Linked DNA regions of Homo sapiens: region 2 is linked to region 1. The links come from fine-mapping of genetic effects on gene expression. A gene starts in region 1. The other region holds a variant in brackets. All regions are shown on one strand. Distances are between the middles of the regions.

Region 1 (2,913 bases):
CATAAAAGGTGTAAGAAAGACACGGAGGTACCTTGGGTTATACCTTTCACCAGGACTAACCTGAAGCACTAGCGTGACAACTGTTGTGATACTGGGGATGATCTGAATATTCTTCCTCTCAGATTAAAGTGGATATTTTCTAACACAACAACATTTATTGGTAAAATATGACATTTTCCATAAAAAATTTAAAAGATGCTTAAGAAAGTTCTCTACAGTTTAGGACACATTTTGAGTATGAATAGAGTTACTCAAAATATCCTATCAATATACAGTGGGCTTCCATATTTCTTTCCCCTTTAATTATATGCCACTTCCATTTGTGTTTCATCAGTGAAAAAGTAATTTGGAGGCCTTCTCATTCATTATCCCGCAGCTGGAGTTTTCATTCGTTTGTACTGGGGGGGACCCTCGCCTTAACTGCACACACCTCCCTTTCCTCTGGGTCCCATCCTTGCCATCTGCCAGGGGCAAAGTTGAAGCAGCCCCTCCACACTACTGCTTAACCAGGTCTGACATCCTCATCCAATTCTACTGTCAGCGGCATTCTGCTCAGAGATCACTTTTGTTTTACCCCAAGCACAGGCAGTGACTGAATAAAAGGCAATGAAAGAAAGAAGAGTCCTGCCCAGAACCGCAGGTACGAGTCACAACAGGGCCCCGAGAGCAGCCTGTGGTAAGAAGTGTGGCTTCCAGGTACCCGCCTCCACACTCAGCCCAGCCTTATGTATGCAAGGAAAATCACACCCCAGGAAAGACCGACATTCTTTCTCCTGTTGAAACTCCAAGCCCAAACTGTTATTCTAAAGGAAGCGCATTGCCTTTCAAGGCCTTCCAGTTCTTCCTACTGCTTGGGAACTGATGCGCGTTCCTCCTCCTGACGCCGGCCTGGGATAAGAGGAGAGTAGGGGGCAGGTGGCGGAGAATATGCCCATGTTTCAGAAAGCCGGTCCACCCGGTGTGCCCCGTCTCACCAGATGTGCAGACAGCTGAGGGTGGCAAAGAGAATTCCCGCAATGAAGGCCAGGGGAATGGCCAGGAACACCGTCAGGAACTTGTACATTACGTATTTGCTGATTTCAAAGAGGGCATGGCTGCAGATCCACACTTTGTCAAAGGAGTGCGTAGTCACCGGCTCTGCGATCACATCCTCGAAGCCCAGCTGAGGAGACAGGACGCAGGGACCCCGAACTGTCAGCCAACCTGACGCCCCGGGAACCGGGAGCGCTTTGGGCGGGGGAAGCAGGAGGGAAGGACGTGCCAGGGCGTCCGCCTCTTCTCTTAGGGTCACGGTGGGCGCACAGGAACCTGGCTAAGAATTCCTGGCTACGCGGGCGGCCTGGTGACGGGTGGGACCGGGGAAGGGTGCGGGTCTCAGACCCTGCGGGGCCGACCCGGTAGCAATGGTGGGACGGGTTAGGGCGGGGCTGAGGGGCGCCCGCACCTCCCGGCCTCAGCGGGGACTTGGGCCCGCCCGCCCCGGGCTTCACCTTGAGATGCGAGTTGAGCCGGTGGGGATCCCGGTCCTGGTCCGAGTCCGCGAACTTCTCGGGGTCGGCGTACTCGAGGCCGCTGTGGTGGCTGTAGGAGTCGTCGTCCATGAAGAGCTGTACGTCCGCCTTCTCCGTCTCCAGCCCCATCGCAGCCTTGGTGCGCGGCCGCTGCAGCCCGGCTGGCGCGGTGCGGCTCCCGGTCCGCGCGGCCTCCCCTTCCCGTAGCGCCCGGCCCCGCCCCCCCTCGCCTCGCCTAGCCCTGCGAGGCCCGGGCGGCGGCCGCTTCCCGCTGTGGGCTCCAGCTCCCAGCCCGGCCGTCCCGAGCCCCGCCCCGGCGCCCCGCCGCCCCTCCCCGCCCACCTCCCCCGCCGGGGCGCAGGGAACCGTCCCCACGAGTCACAGCCCGGGCCCTGCAGTGGGCGGCGACGCCGGCAGCTGGGACGAGGAGGGCCTCCTGGTCACCCTTCTGGGGGCCCGTACTGTCATGCCTCAGAGCTGGCAAGTCGTCCCAGGGAAGACAACGGCCTTCCTGGAGGGAGGGAACCTTGTGGTTAGGCGCATGGGGTGCGAAGCAGGTATGTGCTCACCTCCGGCTGTGTTTGCCTTGCGTGCTGCGGCTCATGGTGCTGGTATTGAGCCTCTGGGAACCTCAGCTGCCTCGTTGGCAAAATGGGGGCTGTGGCATCTGTTTCAGGGGTGTCCGTGAGAATTAAATGTTAATTTCACATAAAATTCTAACACACATGGCCCATGGCCCGTAACACACAGTGATAAACTTCCAATCAACGTTGTTGCTGCTGTCGTGAGAGGTAAGGAGCCACAATGTACCTGAGTGCTAGGTACCTGAGTGCTAGGTGACCTGCAAGTGCATGTGGAGTTGGGTAGGCGAACGCCCTGGCCCTAGAGTTTGTGCCTTCAGATCTGAGGTGTGAGGGGAGATCTGATTTTTTTTTTTTTTTTTTTTTTACTTCCTAAACTACACCGTGTGTGTGTGTGTGTGTGTGTTTGTGTGTGTGTGGCAGAGTTTCGCTCTTGTTGCCCAGGCTGGAGTGCAATGGCACGATCTCGGCTCATCGCAACCTCTGCCTCCCGGGTTCAAGCGATTCTCCTGCCTCAGCCTCCCGAGTAGCTGGGATTACAGGCATGCACCACCACGCCTGGCTAATTTTGTATTTTTAGCAGAGACGGGGTTTCCCCATGTTGGTCAGGCTGGTTTCGAACTCCCAACCTCAGGTGATCCGCCCGCCTCGGCCTCCCAAAGTGCTGGGATTGCAGGCGTGAGCCACCGCGCCCGACCTCCACCTTTTAATTTTCTTGTGAACCAGACTGTCTTGAAAGATTCAGGAACTTCTAAGATGCAGTCACATCTGTGATTATCTTGCAGGCAGCACGGAAACAGAACCCTAACACAAAGCCACAT
Region 2 (2,913 bases), 160 kb after region 1:
TCAGTCACAGTGGAGAGCAAAAAGGAAACCATCAGAACTAAAAACAGAAACTGGGAAATGGTATAAGTGACAGGGAGTAGGACAGGGAATGTAACTTTTAGTATCGTTTGAATTTTAAAAATATATGTATTATTTTGTAACAATAATAATAAAAGTAGATCAATCTGTTTTTTTAACCACATCATTACTGTACAATTACTCGGTTGCCCGGTGACTTTTCAGAGGAGCATATGCAAATCATATGCAGAGCAAACAGACTCCACATCCCTTCAGGACTATTTATGCCTCATGCTTTCTTTGACTGTAAAAAAGTTGAGGCATAGGGTGCTATTTTGTATTCTAATTGTGTGGACAAATTGTCAGTGGACTACATTTCCCCCGGGGTATGGAGCTCTCTTTGTCCCCCTTGGATATTGGCGAATGTATCTCAGATATAATCGACTACTAACACTTCAAGATCTTTATTACATATTGATTCCTTAAATACATAGATTTTATTTGAGCCTTACAATAATTCTGTGACAATTCAGAGCAGGTGTTACTATCTTCATTTTCTAGAAAAAGTTAAGCAAGGTTAAGGTGTCTCAAGTCATTGAGAAAGGGAAAGAGCCAGCACCGGTCTTCCTCTCCCTGCCCCATATGGTTTCTTAAGGTGATGGAGATTAAGTAATATTAATGCATACAGGCAGCTTTTAAAAAATGTGAAAAACACATTACCAAAGAGGAAAAAGCAGCCACTACAAACAGGAAATCCTTGTAAATGCCTCAGCTATAACCTTCCTCACCCTGAACTCTTGTTAAAATTGAACAATATGGTAGTTAAAAATGTGTCTCACAGAAAGGACTTTTGAAGGGAGCTGCAAAAGTAAAGAGAAACAAAAAGAGGAAGAAAAGTAAAAAGCTTTCCTTAAAAATGTGGAATTCCATTTAATTGCTGTGCTTGCCTGGGTCCTACGAAGCATCTTATGTTCTGAGTCCTATATTTCAAGTGCTTGCCTATGTCCTGTAAAGCGTATTCTGACTCAGAATAAAACAATGTAAAAAACAGCCTATGATTAATCTTTCCACTTGATTCTGACATTTATTCACCCTTTCTTCCTATGTGCAGAAGTGGAAGTGGGCATATGTGTGACAATGGGGGGAAAGCGGGATGAATGGCAGGGGTTAGAATAAGAAATGTAACTTATTTTTAATGTCATTTGAATTTGCTTAATATGTGCATATATGGAAGGGTTGATTAAACTATAGATAGGAAAGCATTGACCAAAGGGCTCTTTTCTAGAATGCCGTCTGACTCCTTTAAAGTTAAAATATTATTAGAGGACCATAAATTTAATCAGGAGTTTCTGGGTATATTCTGCTTTTCTTCTTCTATTAGAAATTCAAAGCTCTGCCTTCACAACACAAAACCCTTGACTTAAACATAAAAATTTTTAGATACCTCAGAGGCAGGACATTCCCTTTTTCTTGGCCCACCTGGCATCAGTGTGAATGTTTGGTGAACCTTGTCCAAATTCTGGCTCTTCCCATATTGATTCAGTTTCTATCTGCTAGAACAAGGTGACCTGCCAAGCTGTAGTGAACAAAATACGATGACTCACATGAAGTTTTTTCTTTTATTTAAA[C/G]AAGTTAAGTGCAAAGACCATTGATAAGAGCAATTTTTAGCAACCTTGTTATCAGCTTATAGTGAGGCAGTCCCTCTTCCTTCCTCCCCTTTCCACCCACCCCATAGTCGTAAAACCCTCACCAGAAACAATTTATAAAGCTTTTAAAGACAACTTTCAGGTTTGAGTGTTAGTATTTAAATGTGGAATTACTTTGAATTTGAGGCGCTTAGCCAAATTGTTACTAAAATATACTCTTTTTCTTGGCAATTACCACTGTAGACAATGTAGAGTGTTTATTTCATGTGTACCTAGCCATAAATGAATTCAAAAGTAATTTAACTTAAAGCTTTAACTAATTCTTTTAATCCCAATAACATAAAGCACTGTGTTTGGATCAGGAATCATCTTATATAACTGGCATTTAATAGGCATGACAAAATATATAATAAAGAAGTATATAACTTTTGTTGCATCTACATTAAATACAAATGAAAAATAATGAGGCTTATTTCTTCCATAGATCTCAGTGTCTTTGGAAAAAATGGACAATCAATAACTGCTGTAATATAACAGCACGATTCTATTATTTTCAGAGCTCTATAGTGAGATTAATAGTACTATTTTTAAAAATCAGAATGTGACTTTATTAAATCCCAGAAGAATGTACATTTAAGAAAAAGGGATAGAAATATCACCAAATATCTTTTCTGTATTGAATATAGCAGTCTGAATGTCACAGTCTTTAAACCTTTTTCTTCTTCCCTGAATTGCTATATCTGGTAATTTTGAAATATGAGTTAGAAACAATCAAGCTCATACCTAATGGATATCAATATTCCAGTTAATGTTTGTCCCAATGTTTTTCTCAAAGACTTAAGAAAAATGAAAATTCTATTTGACTTACGCTTATAGCAGAGATGGCTAACAACATAAAATTAATGCTATGTCTTTCTTAGTAGCTTTGTCTTGTGGCTGCCCAGCCAAAACCAACTTTTCTATACTTACTAGCAGTTAGGAGAGGCCATGTGACTAATTTCCACTAATAGAATGTGAGAGGTAGTGGCACCTGTTACTTCTGGACCCAGGTAATTAAACAGCTGGTGTGGTTTTTGCATCCTTTCTCTTGCCTCTTCCATCAGTTGGATGTTGATTTCCATGGCAACCTCTAAAGCCATGTTTTGGAGAACACATCACAGCTATCAACTTGGGTCTCTATATGACTGCATGAGACAGATGCATCGTGGCCCCAGCAGCAGACCATGAGCACCTGTGCTGGACTGTTGCATGAGCAAGAAATAAAATTCAA

What was found.
Region 2: its variant is fine-mapped to the expression of CAV2 in whole blood (INTERVAL, PIP 0.94).

Annotation. Positions count from the first base shown.
Region 1 is chr7:116,498,509-116,501,421 of GRCh38, reverse strand. It overlaps CAV2 (caveolin 2), which reads right to left and starts at 1,684. Exons shown (of 3, transcript NM_001233.5): 1 at 1,491-1,684; 2 at 975-1,162. The coding sequence starts at 1,640. It overlaps CAV2-DT (CAV2 divergent transcript), which reads left to right and starts at 1,906. Exons shown (of 3, transcript NR_188012.1): 1 at 1,906-2,068. RefSeq lists a silencer at 1,712-1,801 and enhancers at 1,982-2,121, 2,168-2,669.
Region 2 is chr7:116,338,483-116,341,395 of GRCh38, reverse strand. LOC124900233 (a long non-coding RNA gene) reads right to left here. Exons shown (of 3, transcript XR_007060487.1): 2 at 1,477-1,573. Among named protein-coding and RNA genes, the nearest start is that of TES, 130 kb to the right of the region's middle. The variant C/G (reference allele first, on the strand shown) is at 1,626.